2 separate regions of the Homo sapiens genome follow, and region 1 is linked to region 2. Evidence: fine-mapped expression QTL. Tissue or cell type: iPS cells. Region 2 holds a variant in brackets; the other region holds the start of a gene. All regions are shown on one strand. Distances are from middle to middle.

Evidence for each region. PIP is the estimated chance that this variant, and not a neighbour inherited with it, causes the effect.
Region 1: PRKAB2 starts here. The variant in region 2 is fine-mapped to the expression of PRKAB2 in iPS cells (PhLiPS, PIP 0.95).

Annotation. Positions count from the first base shown.
Region 1 is chr1:147,166,996-147,177,434 of GRCh38, forward strand. It overlaps PRKAB2 (protein kinase AMP-activated non-catalytic subunit beta 2), which reads right to left and starts at 5,475. Exons shown (of 8, transcript NM_005399.5): 1 at 5,434-5,475; 2 at 4,994-5,172; 3 at 772-938. The coding sequence starts at 5,149. It also overlaps a transcript of CHD1L not described here. RefSeq lists silencers at 5,135-5,404, 5,575-5,804.
Region 2 is chr1:147,204,000-147,214,438 of GRCh38, forward strand. It overlaps FMO5 (flavin containing dimethylaniline monoxygenase 5), which reads right to left. Exons shown (of 9, transcript NM_001461.4): 4 at 9,309-9,471; 5 at 8,394-8,536; 6 at 4,853-5,052. It also overlaps a transcript of CHD1L not described here and the pseudogene CCT8P1. Among named protein-coding and RNA genes, the nearest start is that of FMO5, 16 kb to the right of the region's middle. The variant A/G (reference allele first, on the strand shown) is at 5,396.

The DNA of each region.
Region 1 (10,439 bases), 37 kb before region 2:
AAAAAACAAGTGGCAATCATAGTATCATATGAATAATTTCCCAGATTCCTAAGCCATTGTATCCCCTGGTGTAAAAAACAACGTATAAACCCATTCTCCTTTTCTGTATCATCTTGGACATGTATTTACCAGCTCCTCCCAACAACGTTAGTTCTTAACCAATATCTGGAAAAGAATAATAAAAACATTAATCCCCTCAAATGGTTCACCTTAGTATAACTTACTTTGCTTCAGTAGAACAAGTTCCTCACCAGTGCAAATAAGATAGGTAGGTTTAGGATACAGAAGTGCCTCAAGGTACTCTTTCCCTGTTTTGGTGAACCTTTTCTAGAGAATGAACTACCATACAAAGGGCCATTCTGACAACCAGTTAAATCACTCATTATTGCTTTGGAAGCAACAAATAACATGACTACCTAAAAATTCAAAATGTGTTTTGCTTTAGTGCAGAAGTCAGAGCAACAAGACTCAGACAGTTACAAAAGACTTCCCACAAGCATAGACAGGACTTGTATGACATAGTCCTAAAGAATGTAGCCATAAAGCTATTATGAATCCCTCTGAGGCAATGAAATTCTAAAGGGTAAAACATCTCTGACTCACTATGAGGTTAAAAAAAAATCCCACAGATATACTAAGTGGCCGCAGAAAAGGGCATGTTCTAGAGACAGTCCTTAGTAGGTGGAGAAAAGTCCAGCTGGGTCTCTCTTCTGAGAAAAGAAATCAGGTCTCTATTCCTGGACCCTTAGATTCAACCAAGACACTTGTCACCTCTTAATCAGTGGAATCTTGGTGCTCCAATTGTTGAAGGACCCAGAGATGAAGACCTCCTTGCCTCCTTCAGACCAGCGGATAACAGTGGGCCGGGCCTGCTGTGTGGGCTTTACGGAGTCCTCCAAATCCTGCTGCCATGATACAAACTCTTTGTCCCCAGGGAGCTGTAAGAAGGAGTAGGTCATCCCTAGAATAAACTGTGACCCAAGAATTCTAAAAAGGTCACTCTCCTCCCTAGGATAGAGAAGGGTGCTAGGCTTTGGCTAAGGATATAAACCCCAAAATTAGCAACTAAATCAGAGTTTGAACAAATTATAGAAAAAGAACTCATCTAGGACCAAAAATGGTCAAATGGCCTATGCTCAAGCACTGCCTAAATCATAGCCTAACTTTTGAGTCTACCTGTGTCACTTACCCTTCCAGAGCCTTAGACTCTCCCTTAAAAAAAAAAGAAAAAAATAACTCCCTACCACTAGTTTAACTCATAGGCAGGCAATTATGATATGCTTCTGAGTCTTTCTTCAGAGGAAAAAAAAATGAAAACAAAGTATGGTTCTGTAAAAGATAATTAAGTCAGCCATATATTTTTATAGGCAAATATGAATAGCTCTCAATTACCAGTTGTAATGGAAGTCAGAGATATCAAAATTCATAAGTAATTCATAAACTGTATTTCAGCTAAGAAGTAAAAAGAAGAAACATTAAAAATTCAAAAACTAGATCACTGATTTCTTAAAACTTGAGAAGTGGCTATGAAATCTTACTTATTCCCCTATCCCAGGCTTATACTAATTATTTCAGGAGTAGGAATAAAAATTCTAGAACCTCAAGAAGCAAGAGATCAAAAATACAATTTCCTTTATCAAAAGTAGCTCTCTTATCAAATGAGGTTTATGGGATTGTAAAAACAGTAACTCCTGTTTCTTTTCATTACTATCCTTTGGACCAAGAGTTGGCAGACAGCCAGTAAGCCAGATGCTTTTATCAAGTGTTATTTGAAAACAGCTCTGCCCATTTGTTTACCTATTATTTTACTGATTGATTGATTGAGAAAGGACCTTGCTCTGTCACCCAGGCTGGAATGCAGTGAGTGGTGTAATCATAGCTCACTGCAGCCTCGAACTCCTGGGCTCAAGCCATCTTCCCACCTCAGCTTCCAGAGAAGCTGAGACTAGAGGTGTGAACCAACATACCTGCCTTGCTTACCTATATTGTCTATAGCTGCTTACAGGCTACAGTGGCAGAATTGCGTAGCTATAACAGAGACTGTATGGTCTACAAAGTCTAAACTATTTACTATCTGGCCCTTTACAGAAAGATTGCTGACCCCTATTTTAGACTGGTTTAAGTGACTTTGGTAAATAAGACTGTATAGTATTAAGCCTAAATATTACTAAATTGAATAATGTGGGTTTTTTTTTAAAAAAAGGACTAGCTTATTCATTTGGGCTTTCTTTTCAAAATGGTTGACATAGCTTCCCTCCATACATTCTCTTGATATTCCTCAAAACTACAGTATAGCATATCAGTAGCAGGATAATCCAAAGTAAATAGAGAAAGAGAATTGAAAGGACTTTCACATAAGGAATTGACTTAAGAGAAAACTACATATTCTCAGAACAATGCACTCTTGACTAACTGGCTGCGTTAGAATTACAAGAATTTGACATATGCCTAAGAATAACCCTCAGATTCGGATGTAAGATCTGGGAACCTATTTTTAAAAAGCTTTCTAGATAACACTGTGATTATGTTAAAATAAAGGAAAAAAAGCTTCCCAGATATACCGTGATTATGTTAAAATAACAAAGAAAAAACCCTCATCTTTAGAGGTACATCCTAAAATGTTACAGATAAAATAATACTTGATATAATATCTGGGAATTTGCTTCAAAATAACTAGTGGGAGAATAGTGGACTGGGGTATAGATGTTATATGTTCATTCAAGATATGATCATTGTTCAAACTGGGTGGCATGTATATAGATGTCATTATACTGTTTCCCCCTACTTTGAAAGTGTTTCAAATTTTCCAAAAACTATTTAAAGAAATCTGAGGTGATTCTAATGTGCAAACAGGATTGAGAACCACTGAACTAGTCCACTGAAAAAGGCAGGCATTCAAAGCAAAGTAGGCCCCCCTGCCACTGTTTCTGTCAGTTACTTTTATGACAGGATTTTCAGTTTAGAATTTGAAAGCTACAAACTATTAATATGCCTAGCTTTGGAGGAAAGCCCTTCCACTTATGACATGACATTTCTGTAGTAGGAATGAATGCAACTGACTAGCAGAAAGATTGTTTACTCCAAGTTACTCAGCAAAACTACCAGGAAAAGAGGCAAAACGACAATCAGAACTACAGTTTGATGTTTAAGTAAAATGTTGAGTTTAGAAGTAAAGAGGCTACATTGAGAACTATAAAATTTTAGACTTAAATGAGACCTTAGGAATTATCTGATTTTCAGACAATCTGAAAATTATATGAATAATTTTCTTAATTCACAAATGCCAAGACTGAGGTGAGAGATAAGAATAATACAAAATAGGCCCCAATTCAGACAGAGCAACCTGGCTTTTAATCAGGACACCAATTACTGCAGTCACAGTTCGACAAATACACTGTATTTAAATCCTGAGTCATCAACATAGGAAAAGGGTAAAAATATAATGAGGCGGATCACCTTTCGAAAGCTTTGAAGAAGTAAATTCAGATGGCTTGTAGATAGCCCAAATAAGAATGGAGAATTGGAGAATAAACCCCAATAAGTGCTCCTTTTAATCACTCTCACTTCTCTGTGATTATGGTTGGTTTTTTTGTTTTTTTGTTTTTTTGTTTTGAGAGTCTGTCACCCAGGCTGGAGTGCAGTGGTTTGATCTAAACTCACTGCAACCACCGCCTCCCGGGTTCAAGCGATTCTCCTGCCTCAGCCTCCCGAGTAGCTGGGACTACAGGCATGCACCAGCATGCCCGGCTACTTTTTCTGTATTTTTAGTAGAGACGGGGTTTCACCATGTTGGTCAGGCTGGTCTCGAACACCTGACCTCAAATGATCCAACCGCCTCGGCCTCCCAAAGTGCTGGGATTACAGGCGTGAGCCTCTGCGCCAGGCTGTGATGATGTTATCAATTGAGATCCAAAGAAATAAATCATGGAATCCAAATTCCATGTGCTACCAATATGGCAAACAATACTCTATTCACTCTCTAAAGCCCCAGTTCCCTGGGAAGTGATGAAATGATAGGAAACATCAAACACACCCGAATCTCCTCAAGCCCTCCATTTTTCTATCTCATCCAGTCAGTCTACCTGGAGGAATTACTTGTATTTCATGCTGACAGCTCTGAAAGCCATTAGAAACATTAGAATGGTAATCGCTGCTATCAGCTCCATCTGTCCTTTCTTACAGAGTGAAAACAAGTTGTTCTCTTCCTGAAAGTCCTTGGAATTGAGAGCAAGGTCTTCAGGGCAGCTGTGGGTTGTCGTTTTTTTAGCCACGCAACATTTTGAAGTACTACTGAGGAGTAAACAAGTCGTGGAATCATTGGCTCTTCCACCTACGGAGCAGCAGCGGGGCGTGAAAGAGGCACAGCCTCAGCCACCACAACTATAAAGTATGGGACAAAAATTAAGCAGTCAACTAAATGATGTCCTTAATTGATCCCCAAGACTAGGAGAAAGTATTCAATAAGCAAGTAGTTGCTGCTTACAGCCGTGCCAAAAGGGAAGAGGATCACAACTGTAGAGCTGCTAGAAGAGCAAAAATGATACTGATACATAGAAATTTTCAGAAAAAGAATTTCATTTAGCCACCTCAGGGCAAAGGTGAGAAACTACCACCTATGGTCAGCAACTCGTGCAACCTACCCTCTGAAGTTGTCCACCAGGGATTACAAACTACAAATTCAGCAACGCTATGGAAGAGAGCCATTCGTGCTCGGAGGATCGGGGATGGGGGGATGTCTATTGTCCCCATCCTAAAAATGTGGCCAACAGATTAGTCAGAACACCAGGAAAGCAAGAACTCCGCCTCTTTATCCTATTTTGAGGCGGCACTTCAAGAGGAATTATCATCCAACACCTCTGTCCCCGATAAATCCCTTTAATTCAAAAAACCATAGCCCGGTTCGGCGCGGTAGAAAAGAACCAAGAAAGGGAAGAGGAGCCCAGAAATCAACCCGCTGCAGTACTGACACCAACTGCGGGCATGGGACGCTTACCTTGGAGTCAGGGAGGCTGAACACGCTGGGGTCGTCCGTACTCCCCACCATGATCTTGTGCTCCTTCCCCGGGGCATGGCCGCCTGCGCCCTCGGAGCGTGCAGCCTTGGCGCCGTGGCGCTCCCCGGACACCCGGTCGCTGGTGGTGTTTCCCATGGCTGCAGCTCGTCGGGGACCACCTACCGCGGGGAACGACACCGGGCTGGGAACACCTCAGCCGCCGCGTCAGGGGCGCCCCCCGGCCCCGCCCCTGCGCCTCGGGACAGGGCAAGGGATTCCCCGCCCCAGGGAAGCCGAGCCCTGGAGCCCTCTCCCTCCTGGCCTGCGGGAACGCCTGCAAATACCCCGGTGCCCTCACTGGCCCTAGCTCAGGAAACCCGCTATCGGGACCTCCCCCGCGTCCCCGCGCTCACTGCCAGGGGCGCCCCCACTCCAGTCACCTCGGGCGATGCGCTCCCTCCTCCAAGGGCCACTGATGTGATGGCTGTTCTGCAGATCAGGCCACCAATAAAGTTATTGAAATTGAAGCCGCACCCCTCGCTGGCGACCAGCGATTCCTCCTAAAATGGCTACAAGGCCGGCGGCGCGGAGTCCGCCCAGTGCGCGTTCCCTGCGGCCTGCAGCCTCGGCGCCCGGGACCCGCCGGCCTCTCTAGCCGCCGCCGCCGCCGCCTCGATGGTGGGCAGTCGCACGCAGCCTCCAGCGCCAGGAGGGGGCGCCAGGCAGGGCCTGTCCCGCCTGGGGAGACTGCGCCCGGGATAATAGGAGCGCTTGGCCTCTGAGACTACCCGGCAGAAGGGACGTCCCCAAATGACACTCGGAGGCCGCCTCCCTGGGCTCCGGTGCTCGGTGCCGGGAGGAGCGGCACGGCTTTCTACCCCGCCTCAGGTGCGCCAGCACGTTTTCTGGGCAGCATCTGTGTGTTAGGCGACCGGAGAGGTGGGTTCCTTATAGGGAATAAGAAAACTGAAACTGACTTCCAACTGCAGGCAGAAGGAAGCAGTGGTCATTGCTGGAGGTTAAAACTGTTCTGACCGGGCGCAGTGGCTCACGCCTGTATTCCCAGCACTTTGGGAGGCTGAGGCGAGCAGATCACGAAGTCAGGAGATCAAGACCATCCTGGCCAACAAGGTGAAACCCCGGCTCTACTAAAAATACAAAAATTAGCTGGGCGTGGTGGCGCGCGCCGGAAGTCCCAGCTACTTGGGAGGATGAGGCAGAAGAATCGCTTGAACCCGGGAGGCGGAGGTTGCGGTGAGCCGAGATCGCGCCATTGCACTCCAGCCTGGCGACTCAGCGATACTCCGTCCCCCTCTCCCCGCCCCAAGAAAAATCTGTTCAGTGGGGAGCGACAAGGAAGGAGCTTTCAGCCCGACTGGGGTCGCAGGGAAGAATTCAAGATGGCGTGTTTAGGAGCTCTAGCTCCTTGACAAATTAGTAAAATGTTAGTCTTAGGAGAAGAACGAAAAGGCTCTCCTAGGCTAAGAAACAGCATACACAGTGAGAAACCTCAGAAGAAATAAAATTCAAGGAAGATAGCAACAACGAAAACATCAGAAGGAACACTAAAGGTATAAAAAGGGCAAAGACAGCCCTAGGGTTGGGAGGGATCCAGGTTTTTTATGAAAATTAGTGGAATCCCTAAGGTACTTACCTTTGTATTATAAGTATTTGCATGTCTCCTTCTAGAAACGTTTATCACTCTGTGTTACACAGACCAGCAGTGTTGGCGTCAACTGGGAGCCTGTTAGAAATGCAGAATCAGGCCCCATCCCCAGGGTTCTGAATCTGCATTTTAACAAGATCACATTAAAGTGTGTGAGAAGCAATGCTTTGACAGCTGGCAGAGAGCAGATCCAGATTTGATACCTTTTCATATTCTGCATGTACCTTATACAGAGTAGGCTTTTGCATTTGCGGAATGAAGGATACAGGAATACTGTTTACTGTAATCCATTTCTAACCAGATATGCCACTTAGGCTTAAACACGGCCAATGATGGGGAACCCCAAGTTACATAGGCCACCCTTTCTGAGTGAGCAGCTCTATTTGCTGAAACGTTCATTTTTATATTATGAAGTTGACATCCCACTTAAGTACAACAAATTCACTACTCCCCTATTCTTTGCTCTGCCTCTTATAAACTCATTCTTTGGCTCATAAACCAAAGACAGTTTACAGGAAGAAAAAAAAAAGGTACGATTTTACTGCAACTTCTTGCTCACCCCTCCAAAATCTTTATGTCTGAGTACATGCTTTTTGGTTATCCCTACTTTTCTCCCTCCACCCCTCAATTCCTTACCATAGGACACTGAAGCAAGGCCCTTGAAGATACATAATACATTAAACCTTGACTTGTGTAGTATTCAGTTTTCTGACCCCAAGGTGGTTTCACCATGCCAAATAATATGTCCTTGGTATGTATTTCCTTGCAGTAGTCAAATCAGCCTAGCAGAAACAAAGTACGTTAACCAATGGAAAACTGACGGAGAGAAATAAACTGTTTTTGCACAGCTAAATGGAAATGACTTTTGAATTATCTGCTTTGGAAGATTATCCATGACACTGTTCTGCCCTGCTCTGCTCTAACAACATTTGTAAGTCACTCAACAGTTAATAATAAAAGTCAGTTTTGAATATTGCAGGTTTTAGACACAGAACAAATGTAATGTGACACTGTAGGAAGAATGAATTCTCCTTAGTCCCAAATTCCTTTTTTTTTTCTTAGATTCGGGAATAAGTAAAGATACAAGATCCTCTTAACCAGTATCAGTATAATTGTTCCCTTTAGATTTATTGCTGTCACCCCAATGCTCTTCTTTCTTTCTAGAGGAAAGGAAAAGAAGGAGGTAATAGGAAAAGTAATGGGTTGTCCTGATGTTACTGTGTCTAGGATGTCATTGCCACTGGTCTCCTCAGATCAATCATTCTGCCTAATAAACAGAAAAATAACATGGGCAGCCTCACATGCAAGCCTTTACACACACTGCTAAAGAGACCTCGCTTCCTCTGAGAAGTGAGGATGTGAGAATGAAGGATTGATTTTACAGAACTGGATGACAGGTTAAATTGGGCATCTGGAGGTTTATATTCCCATCTCCACTCACCAAGTTTCATCCTCCATTTATGACCAAGGATAGGTATAACATCTGATCTTGATGGTTACTGTTTCAAAAAACAATCTGATCTTTTTTATAAAGTTAAACATTTACTTAATCATGCAGCATACTAATTCCCACTCCTGGGTATTTATCCGAGTGACATAAAAACAAGTTCACACAAAACCTGTAAACACATATATGTCTTTATTCATATAATAGAAAAAACACAAACCCTAAAATGGAAAAAACATAATGTCCTTCACCTGGTGATATGGTTTGGTTCTGTGTCCCCACCCAAATCTCATCTCAAATTGTAATACCCACGTGTTGAAGGAAGGACCTATAACCTTCACGTGTCAAGGGAGGGAAGTGATTGGATGATGGGGGCGGTTTCCCCCATGCTGTTCTTGTGATGGTGCATGAATTCTCACCAGAGATGATGGTTTTAAAAGTGTTTGGCAGTTCTTCCTTCATTCACACACACTCACTGTCTCTCCCCTGTGCCACATAAGATGAGCTTGCTTCCCTTCTACCATAACTGTAAGTTTCTGAAGTCCTCCCCAGCCATGCAGAACTATAAGTAAATTAAACCTCTTTTCTTTATAAATTACCTAGTCTCAGGTATGTCTTTATAGCAGTGTGAAAATAGGCTAATACATCTGGTGAATCAATAATTAAAATGTAGCATAGCTATAAATGGAATACTACTCAGTAATAAAAGAATAACTCGATACATACAATAATATTGATGAATCTCAAATGCATTATGGGAAGTAAAAGAAGCCAGGCTCCACTTATGTGACATTCTGGAAAAAGGAAGACTATACGGTCAGAAAACAGATCAGTGTTTGCCAGGACTTGGGGGTGGGGGGTGGGGAGTGATTGACTACAAAAGGGCATGAAGAAATTTTGAAGGGGAGGTATGGAACAGGTCTGTATCTTGACTGCAGTGGAGTTATTGATACTTACCAAACTGTACAATAAAAAGTAAATTTTTATTGTATGAAAATTATGCCTAAATTAAAAACTATTAATAAAATCAGCATTAGCAAAATATATGAGTTTATACACAAGAGACTACTCAACCATTGGGTAAACTAATTATTTTTAAACAAATACCATTGATTTTAATCTTTTTATAGTTTTTATACAGGCAGAGAAATAATAGTGATTCTGCTCACCTAAAGGAAGATAGACCCAATTCAAAGGTACAGAATTTTCCCCAAATAGTATCATAATTTTTCCTTTCAGATTCCAAAGGATTTGCATGTAAATTCTATCATGTGATCCTCAGAACCACCCTATGAGGGTAAGCAGAACAGATGATCCATGATATTCCATTTTATAAATGAGGTGCAGGTTAAATATTTAGCCAGTATTTCTTGATAAGTATAGTCCATTTATTTCAACAAACCTTGATTGAGGGCCCCAATACTTGTTGAGCTTTTGCTGAGCCACCCCTGCTCTAGAGGAGCACATGCTCTGGAAATCTCTAAGGAAACTACTACAACTCTAAATAGATATGGTGTATAGTGATACTGTGACTAAATATTCACTGCAAATTTCCTCTAAAATTATAGATATACATTACTGGAATAATTAGTATCTCAACATCTTCATTAACTATGAATCTACTATGTATATATCATCACCATGTGAGTATTAATTTGGTACAAATAGGCTGCCAACTCTAAAATTATTTGATGTAGGGCAAGTACTTTTATCTTTTTAGCCATAAATTTTCTCATCTGTAAAATGAGAGGAGTAGGCATGTGATCATTAAATCCTGGGTTACGGTAGGAGGCATCAATATGAAATGTTTAGCTTAATATAGATACAGATGGGTAAATATAGAAATACTTAAAAATGCATGTGGATTCATGTTTAATACATTAGTATACACACATATATTTCCAAGTTCTGTCCTCCGAAGGCCTAGAAGCAATGACAAGCAGAAGCAAGGAGCACACCCAGCATCCAGTTTTTTGTTTCTAATACTGTTCTCCAACAAAGGGAACCAGAGCCCTTGAGAAAAATGCCTAATTCTAGGACTGGGGCAGGGGATATACAAGATGAGTCTGAAACATCTTATAGTGCCAGAAAATAAACAAGTGCTTTAAAAAGACACAAAAAACTGATGGTATATCAAAGTGACATAGGAGCCAACTAAAAGAGCTCCCAATAGCTAAAGCTAGAATAATTCAAAAAATAAGTAATTCAGCATTGGATTTAACCCAAATTATAAAATAAGATCCATGAGTTCATACTGATACAAGTAAATGATTGAAGAAACAAATAATTGGGAGATAATTCTCATATTGAAAAATTCCAAAAAATTTATGTAC
Region 2 (10,439 bases):
ACATCATATTATATTTGTTTGCATAATGAAGAGCCATGTCTGCCACTTTGCCACCTGTTACTACAACATTTGCACCAGTATCAGCAATAGCTTTGACTTATGCATCCATGAGATTTTCTTCTCCCTTACTTAAATTCATCAATTCTTCATCAGTCTTTATCAACACTGTTCCCTTAGTTTCTGTTATCATGCCATCAAAAGGACAAGAGTACACTGCTATTTTTGCATCTTTGACAGATGTACATCACCTTCTGTTTCCTTCTTAAAAACCATGCCATGCAATACTGAAGAGGAAGTGATACCACAGCCCAGAATTTTACAAACTCTGATGTTATCAACTTTGAAATGGCCAGAATCAGGAAAAATAGATACGCATGCCTGAACAATAAGCTTGGCCAGAAATACTTCATTACCATATTGTTTACACATTACAGAGGTACGAAGTAGAGATGAGACTTCATCAACATCTCGAAGGTTTTTTGCAGAACAACGTACCAAATTAGGAAGAATCTCATGAGCTTTTCTGCAAGCTATTTCATAACCTTCTATGACCTCTGAAACTGACAGGCCAATCCTCAGAAGTTCTTCAGCTAATTCCAGGAGAGCTCCGGCAAATACCAGAACAATGTTTGTGCCATCTCCAACTTCTTGCTCTTGCATATGAGAAGCCATTACAGTCATTTTTGCAGCAGGATGCTGTACTTCTAGTTCTCTTAAAATAGTCGCTGCATCATTTGTCACAAACAACTTCTCCAAGTGGTTGATAACCATTTTTTTCATTCCATTTCGTCCATATGCTGTACGAGTGGTTTGGGCAAGCTCCTTGCAAGCTTGTATGTTTCTATACACAGCCTCTTCTAATTCTGAAAAGTGTTTCGCTCCCTCCTTGAGCATCTGGGCGAAGCCCGGAGCCTTGGGAACTTGAAGCGCCATGGCCAGCCTGCAGGAAGCCGTTCACGTGACCGCTCAGAAGACCGCGGAGGAACCAAAGGTTTTCATGCCTGATGAACCTGGAGATACATTCAGTCACTCTTCCATCTTTGCTATATAGTCCAGCCATACCAGACTACATGCAAGTCCTGGAGCATAATGTATTTTTTGCTGTTCCAAGACTTTGTCTTTATAATTAGAATGCTATACCCTTGCTCTATTTGTTTGGCTATCTCCTATTATTCAACAAAGCCTCAATTTATTTTGCAACCACCAAAAACATGCATGCTAAAATAATTAGGTGAAAGGTTTTTAGGAAACACAGTTTCCAAATGTCACCCCACTGATTAACTTCAACGGGAAAAAATATCTTTATAGTGGAGAAACTTGATGGTATCTATACCACCTTATCTAAGTGGTCAAATTTAGCATTATTACTGTGAGATAAACTGACATAATGTGGTTCTTGATGTGACCCACTAAGATCAACATGTCCTATGTAGTATATGTGTCAAAAACATTTAACCTGAATATAATAAAGGAAAAAAATTATGCAAGTCTAAATTTAGAGACTCTCTACAAAACAATGCCTTGGGTTCTTAAAAAGAAAGCCCATGTCAAAGAGAGAATTATTTCTTATATAGACCAATGGAACAGAACAGAGCCCTCAGAAATAATACCACATATCTACAACTATTTGATCTTTGACAAACCTGACAAAAACAAGAAATGGGGAAAGGATTCCCTATTTAACAAATGGTGCTGGGAAAACTGGCTAGCCATATGTACAAAGCTGAAACTTGATCCCTTCCTTACACCTTATACAAAAATTAATTCAAAATGGATTAAAGACTTAAATGTTAGACCTAAAACCATAAAAACCCTAGAAGAAAACCTAGGCAATACCATTCAGGACATAGGCATGGGCAAGGACTTCATGTCTAAAACACCAAAAGCCATGGCAACAAAAGCCAAAATTGACAAATGGGATCTAATTAAACTAAAGAGCTTCTGCACAGCAAAAGAAACTACCATCAAAGTGAACAGGCAACCTATAAAATGGGAGAAAATTTTTGCAATCTACTCATCTGACAAAGGGCTAATATCCAGAATCTACAAAGAACTCATACAAATTTACAAGAAAAAAACAAACAACCCCATCAAAAAGTGGGTGAAGGATATGAACAGACACTTCTCAAAAGAAGACATTTATGCAGCCAACAGACACATGAAAAAATGCTCATCATCACTGGCCATCAGAGAAATGCAAATCAAAACCACAATGAGTTACCATCTCACACCAGTTAGAATGGCGATCATTAAAAAGTCAGGAAACAACAGGTGCTGGAGAGGATGTGGAGAAATAGGAACACTTTTACACTGTTGGTGGGACTGTAAACTAGTTCAACCATTGTGGAAGACAGTGTGGCGATTCCTCAAAAAGAACTAGAAATACCATTTGACCCAACCATCCCATTACTGGGTATATACCCAAAGGATTATAAATCATGATGCTATAAAGACACATGCACACGTATGTTTATTGCGGCACTATTCACAATAGCAAGGACTTGGAACCAACCCAAATGTCCAACAATGATAGACTGGATTAAGAAAATGTGGCACATATACACCATGGAATACTATGCAGCCATAAAAAATGATGAGTTCATGTCCTTTGTAGAGACATGGATGAAGCTAGAAACCATCATTCTCAGCAAACTATCGCAAGGACAAAAAACCAAACACTGCATGTTCTCACTCATAGGTGGGAACTGAACAATGAGAACACTTGGACACAGGAAGGGGAACATCACACACCAGGGCCTGTTGTGGGGTGGGAAGAGTGGGGAAGCATAGCATTAGGAGATATATCTGATGTAAATGACAAGTTAATGGATGTAAATGACAAGTTAATGGGTGCAGCACACCAACATGGCACATATATACATATATAACAAACCTGCACGTTGTGCACATGTACCCTAGAACTTAAAGTATAATAAAAATATATATATATAAAAAGAGAGATTAAAGAGACATGACAACTAAATGTAATGGTGTGATTGATTACCTGACAGGATACTAGATTTAAAAAGATTTTTTTAAAGCTATAAAAAATACTATTAGGGCAACTGGGGATATTGCCAATGTATTAATGTATTTTATCAATGTTAAATTTCCCACGTGTGATAATTATATGATGGTTATGTAGGAGAATGCCCTTTTTCTTATACAATATACACTGAAGTATTTAAAGTGTCTTAATGACTGCAACGTACTCAAATGGTTTCAGAAAAAAATGTACTTGTGTATGTATGCTCTATATGTATGGACCTATCTACAGAGATGGGGAAAGGAAGCAAATATAGCAAACTTAACAGGTGAATCCAGGTGAAGGATATATGGGTGCTCATTGTACTTATTATTTTGCAACTTTTCTGTAGATCTGAACATTTTCAAAAATAAAAAGTTGGAGGGAAAATAAATTTAAAATCAGCCTCTAGAAATGTTTTCCCTCCCTGGTTCTCTGAGGACCCCATCCTTTGTACTTTCATAACACTGTATGTATTTCTTCATTATAATCTGTCCTCTTTCTTCTCATTAGAGTATTTAAGGTAAGATCTATTTTTTGAGTCTGCCATTTATTATTTCTGTTGCCCTCGGGAAAATTACTTAGTTTCTCTACATCTCAGTTTTTATATTTGTAAAATGTAGATCAAAAATTGTGGAGGCCAAAGCAACTCCATCTTAGAAGTTAATCTACCATATTGACTTCTGATCAACCCTGGTTCCGGGAATACCTCTGAGATTTCCAGTTAATCTGTTGTTTAATAGTATGTACTTACTGTAAATCCCACCCTTAGGGCAAACTCCTACCCATTCGCTCTGAAGTATGTGTGCCCCTCCCCTGTGGTATATCATCCCTGGGTCAGGAGGTAATGGTATGGGGATCTACCATCTTGTCTCACCACTGCCTGAGACAGACATGGCTTCTGTTCATAAGTCCCTATGAAATGTTTCTAAGAAACTGAATCTGTCAGCTTCTTTCTTCAGCCTCTCAGCTTCCTCAGCCTTTGGGGTAGGTTTGCATAGACCTCCTCACTGTGAAACAAAAATAGTACCAACTTATAGGGCTATTGTCAGGATTAAGTGAGATACTGCATGTAACTCATTTAGCACTGTGCTTATCTTATAGAAAGTCCTCAGAAAGGTGAGTGTTATTTCTATTACTATTACTATTATGTCTTCTCTCTGTATTTCATGCCCATGTATGATGCCTGGCTCATAACAGGTACTCAATGAGTAAATGACGCACTGTCCTCAGCTATCATTTTGTTGTTGGGTATCATGCAAAAAGAACTGATACCTGGGGGAATGAGAAAAGGGTTACTGCCAAAGAGAATTCTAGATTAAAAACCCACAGACCAATAGATCTTGGACATCTGTGGGTACAAGTTAGAAATCTGATTTCAGATTCTATGAGTCTATAGGCTTTCTTTTCTTTTCTTTTCTTTTTTTTTTTTTCTTTTTGAGACAGAGTCTGTTGCCCAGGCTGGAGTGCAGTGGTGCAATCTCAGCTCACTGCAACCTCTGCCTCCAGGGCTCAGGTGATTCTCCTGCCTCAGCCTCCTGAATAGCTGGGACTACAGACAGGTGCCACCACACCTGGCTAATTTTGTGTTTTTAGTAGAGATGGGGTTTCACCGTGTTGGCCAGGATGGTCTCAAACTCCTGAGCTCAGGTGATCCACCCGCCTCCGCCTCCCAGAGTGCTGGGATTACAGGCGTGAGCCACCATGCCCAGCCACTGTGGGTTTTCTTAATGTATGGGTAGAGGTGGCTTTACTATTAGCCAGTGTGAAGAGTCCTTATTCTTGTGCTTTGGCCACTATCCCTGCACTCCCATCCTGGGAACATACCTGTGTTTAGGCTTCAGGCCAAACATTTCATGGTCAAACCTTTGGTTTATCTTTTTTTCCAAATATTTGTTTGCTAATGATTGGCCACAGATCTTCCATATAAAATGTGTAAGTCGAGAAGAGAACAACACATCAGCAGGATATCCGTAGTCCCCTACACGATTCAGGATCCAAGCCCCTCTCCTGGTGCTGAGGAAAACCTGGGGCATGGAAGAAATTGTTTGCTTTTGTCACTCAGATTCGTAAACCTTCAAAAGCACCCCCATTTTCTTCAAGAATCATTTCAGGCCCGGCGCGGTGGCTCACGCCTGTAATCCCAGCACTTTGGGAGGCCAAGGCGGGCGGATCACGAGGTCAGGAGATCGAGACCATCCTGGCTAACACAGTGAAACCCCGTCTCTACTGAAAAACCCCGTCTCTACTAAAAATACAAAAAATTAGCCAGGCGTGGTTGCAGGTGCCTGTAGTCCCAGCTACTCGGGAGGCTGAGGCAGGAGAATGGCGTCAACCTGGGAGGCGGAGCTTGCAGTGAGCCAAGATCGC[A/G]CCACTGCACTCCAGCCTGGGCAACAGAGTGAGACTCCGTCTCAAAAAAAAAAAAAAAAAGAGTTCAAACTCATTAGTCTGGCTTTTTAGCCCCTGCACAATCTTTGTGGGTTTTTATGTTTGTTTCCTGCCATTTTCCTTCCCAAACACTAAACTTAGAATTAAATTGGTGTATCTACTGTCCAAGAATATGTTTTGCTCTAATACACCGTTGTATTTCTGTTTAGTGCTATTATGCCTGCCTGAAATGCCTTCTTTCCTCTTAACTCTGCGAAGCCTGTTCATTTTTAAGACCCAGATCAAGACTGCCTCCTCCATGAAGAAACCGCTGACTATTCAGGCTGACAATTTTCTCTCCATCCTCTGAATTTCTCTAGCACTTATCACCTGTAGAACTCATTAAAAATCATGTACTGGTAAAGTTGAAAGCAGCTGGAGACCATTTAATCTAAAACCCTCATTCTTTTGCCATTGACATTGTTGGCATTATTACAAAAACCCCTGCTATTTATCATTTTTATTGATATTAAACTTTCTACACTCCTAATTTCTGTCTCTTCAAATGTGTTTTCTCAAGGATAGGAGATAAAGCCTACACATCCACAGCAGATTATCATCACTTCCATTTATTGGGATTTGTGACCTTTAAGTCATTGTGCTAGGTCCTTCATCTATATTACAACAACCTCTTGAGGAAAGTATTATTACACCCATGTTATAGATGAGGGGCATGGAAAGGATGAATAACTTGCCTGAGATCACAGAGCTAGTAAGTGGCAGAGGTGAATTTCCAACCCAGGTCTGACTAACTCCAAAGCCTGTGCTTAAGAAATGTTTGATTGATTATTTAATGGAGAAAAATAAGATTGCTAGTGGAACAACAGGAAGCTAGTCAGTCTTTCTGTGTCCTCCTCTGGCTAAAGTTCATGTTCAGAACTGATAAAGATTTGATATGCAGTTACCTGGCAAAAGAATCACTTTTCCTACACTATGAAACTCTCTGGAGATGGCTTCCAGATTTTAAGTTATATACGCACATTGCTTCATAGTCTTTTTGTCTAAAATGACCTGTCTACAGAGGGATAATTGTTTACTTCACAAATCTTATCTCGCCTAAAGTGACTGTAAGCACTCTGATAATTATGTACTTCCACAGTCACAGTTGAAAGAGCATATATGGTCTTAGAAACTGAACAATTTTGTGTGCTGGCTATATAACTTCTGCTGAGTAATGAAAACGCTCAGAGCCCTAATGAAAAGATTTCCTATTTATGAAATAGTAATAATAATAATACATATATCACAAGGCTGTTGTGATAATTAAGCAGTGTTTTTGTAAAAGGTGTGGTATATAGTAAACACTTGATAAGTGCTTAATGGCTGTCATATTTCTTATTTCAGTTTTCCATCTATACCTTGTTTTAAGCAAATAACATTTACAAATCAGATTTATAAGGAAAATTGTTTAATCAGTGTAATCTTATATGAAATTAATATTGAAAAAAAGGAATGTTTTCTCTTTACAAAAGCATCTACAAGAATTATACGAAAAACTTCCATGATATACTGAAATATATAGGTCCATTTAAAGTTTTTGATTTATAAACAAATCATCATGAATACAATTTACAAGTAAAGTAAAAAGTTAGAACTCAGCAATTGAGTTTCTTCAGCTTGGATTAGTGGTGTGACAGTATTGCCTCTGCTATGCAGACATAGTTTTCCTTTGCATTTTCCCAGGCTTTCTCACAGACACAGCCACCTTATCTGTACCCACACAGAAATGCTTTGTTATGTGGCAACCTGCAATTCCCCAGAGCAGGTAAGGCCAAGCTCCCTTAGAACTGCCCATTTGACAAGCCAATGATATTAAAGATGGCTCTCGCCATGGGTCCCCACTCCACATTTTGCACATTCCTCTACCATAACACCCACATACGTTTTAACCCTTGTTTATATAATTATTTTAATTATTTTTAATCCTTGTTTATATGATTATTTCCTGATAAATGTCTGTTGAATTAATTTATGAAGTATCATATGAAATAATTTTTGTGGTTATAGATGAGGATAGCAATGAGAAGAAGTGTTTTTCAAACAAAGTTGCTGAGTAAGAGTCATTTAACAGAATTGTAGCACTAAGCTTCTAATTAAAATAAAACAATTTAAAACATCTTTATAGAGAAGCATGGCTTAATTAAAGTTACTAAAGAACAACCAAGACATTTACCTATTGCCAATAGAGTTTGATTCAACACAGACATTAATAACAAAATACAATATTGGCATGTCTTTTTCCAGGAATTTATAGTGAAGACACTTGCTTCTCAGTTCAAAGTCTGCTATACAAAAACCAAAACAAACAAAACAAAAAGCCAAGGAGATATAATTGCTTTAGAATGAATGTTATCTGAGTTACCTAACTGTATGCAAAGGCCAGGGCAAGCTGCTTGCATGTGCTACAGTTTGGACGCTATACGGATACCCACATTGTCTTTGGGAAGATAAAATTGATACTTTTTTCCATTTGGGGAGTGTAAAGGAAAATTCAAGCACCATCCTATGAGTGAAAAGTTTCCAATGATCACGCGTGCTTTCCTTTATGTAAGAACATAGCACTTCTGCTGGCCAATTGAAGATCCTCGCTCTCAATACTGCTTTCTAACAACCTCTCCCAGCAATTACTTTGTCTTTATCAAAGCCAGAGGCACACTCTGAGAAGATGCCTGATTAGGATAATGAGCCCAGACTTTAGCTGATCCAGTTCCTTGGTGTGAGGCTAGTTGCACAATGGAACTCTAACTGGTAGCCTTAACTCCTCTATTAGCACCAATCACCATGTTGCCAACTGAGGTAATGAAACGAAGCCCTATATTTGCCACTGGCACTGAAGGGCTATGTGCAGGTATCCCTATTCTCTGTTGGGTCCACCTGCAGCTTCCTTGGAGAAACTGAAGCTAGAGTTAAGCAACGTAAATAATAATTGAGTGATTCAAACCTGCTTGGCTGTTTGGCTAATCTCTACAGCCAGATCCCCTCCAGAATTCCCAATGCCAATTATAATGACTCTCTTTCCAGTGAATCCCTCTGGGTTCTTATAGTCTCGACTGTGGAAGTACTGCCCTTTGAACTTCTCAATTCCTGCAAGAGAAGGGAAAATAATTATTGGGTAATGGTTTACATGATAGATATCATTTGTCAAGTCATTTGTTTTTTTTGCAGACTTAAGTTTAAGCATATATTCTCCAAGTGTTCTCTTTACTCAGCTACTTTCTTGCCTTTCTCAGTATTTTTGCCTATTTTCTTTTCCCATAGCCTCAGAGTAGTACCTTGTGATTTCCTTGTCATATGTACTTTGCTTAACTCAGGATGTGTTTGTATTTTGGATTTAGAGATATAAATATAAACTGCCTCAGAAAACCTCCATTCTCTTTTATCTTTTCATCCCCTTAAATACCTACTCGCATTTCACTTACAGCACATATATTCTTATATACTTTAGAGTATAGAGTGCTTTTTTTTTTAAAATGAAAATCCAGGCCAAAGACTGAAATTCTTCAAGCTTTCATTCCTTCCTTAGAAACTCAATATTTGTGTTTACTGCTGAAAAATTCCTTATTCTACCTAATGCTCCTCAAGAACTCCACATTCTTCCCTTTGATACTCCAGTCATTTGATACAATGACTAAAGTCATTGTAAAACTAAATAGACTGCAAATTTTGCTCTAATCTCCAAAATTACAAAAATGGCAGTAATACAAGTTACCCCAACATCCTTCTGGGGAACAAGAATAATTAGGATAAGTCTTACTTCATTCCAAAGTAGGAATTACTCAGACCACAATCCTCCCATTCCTCAGGGGTCAGGTCACAGGCATGGGTCAAGGGTCTTCCTTCCTGGTAAGCTGCTCACCAGGGAAGCTTTCCAGAGGTAGATGAGCATTGGTGTGATGGCCAGTGCAAACCATGACTCCATCAAAGACATTCATCTCCTTTTTCCCTTCAGATTCAGTGACCACTTCCCATTGGCCTGAAGTGGCAAAATCAGGCTGCTTCTTCACACTGCACACAGTGGTCTGAAAAGAAAAGTGATAACCACAGGGGACATCCCTGACATGACTCTCCTTGCATAGTGTTACACAAAGGGCTGATATCACAGACACTATCACATAATAGGACCCATGCAGGGATATTTGATTTTCATACTCCACAAATAAGAACTGTTTGGGGCTGTAGTCAGAATGAGAAAATTTCCACAAGACAGAAAAAAATAACATAGTGTTGGCAGGCTAATGTACCCTCCTCTTCTAGAAAAGTGCAAGTCACCAGGTCTCTTGGTCCAGGTCCTAAGGCACTGTAACACCTGAGTAAAGCCTGGGCTTCTCCTGTGCTTTTATGACACTCCATGCACTAAATGCCTATTCTTCTCCTGACCCCTATATGTCCTGAGACCTTCTGATGTCTTCTTACCCTAGGTTCTCTTCTCCTGGCTACCTTTAAATAAGTGACTGAGCTATAGGGCTCCTTTTCCTGGTAGGGTAGAAAAACACCTCAGTGGCTCTCATTTTATATAAATGAATCTCCCTTTGGCTCCCATAAATACCCATTTTACAAAGAACTATAAAGAAAGAGGCTGTGAAACAGGATAGTGTTATGATTTTTAGCTTTATAAAAAATAATAAATATGGGTTACCCTACTTAGGTTAAGGAAACACTATGTGCTTCTACGGGCCCATGACCATAATGTCTTCATGGACTAATAGAGACACCATCCCGGCCGGGTGCGGTGGCTCACGCATGTAATCCCAGCACTTTGGGAGGCTGAGCCAGGTGAATCACCCGAGGTCAGGAGTTCAAAACTCACCTGGCCAACATGGCGAAACCCCGTCTCTACTACAAATACAAAAATTAGTGGGTGTGGTGGCACATGCTTGTAATCCCAGCTACTCGGGAGGCTGAGGCGGGAGAATTGCTTGAACTTGGGAGGTGGAGGTTGCAGTGAGCCGAGATCGTGTCACTGTACTCCAGCCTGGGCAACAGAGCA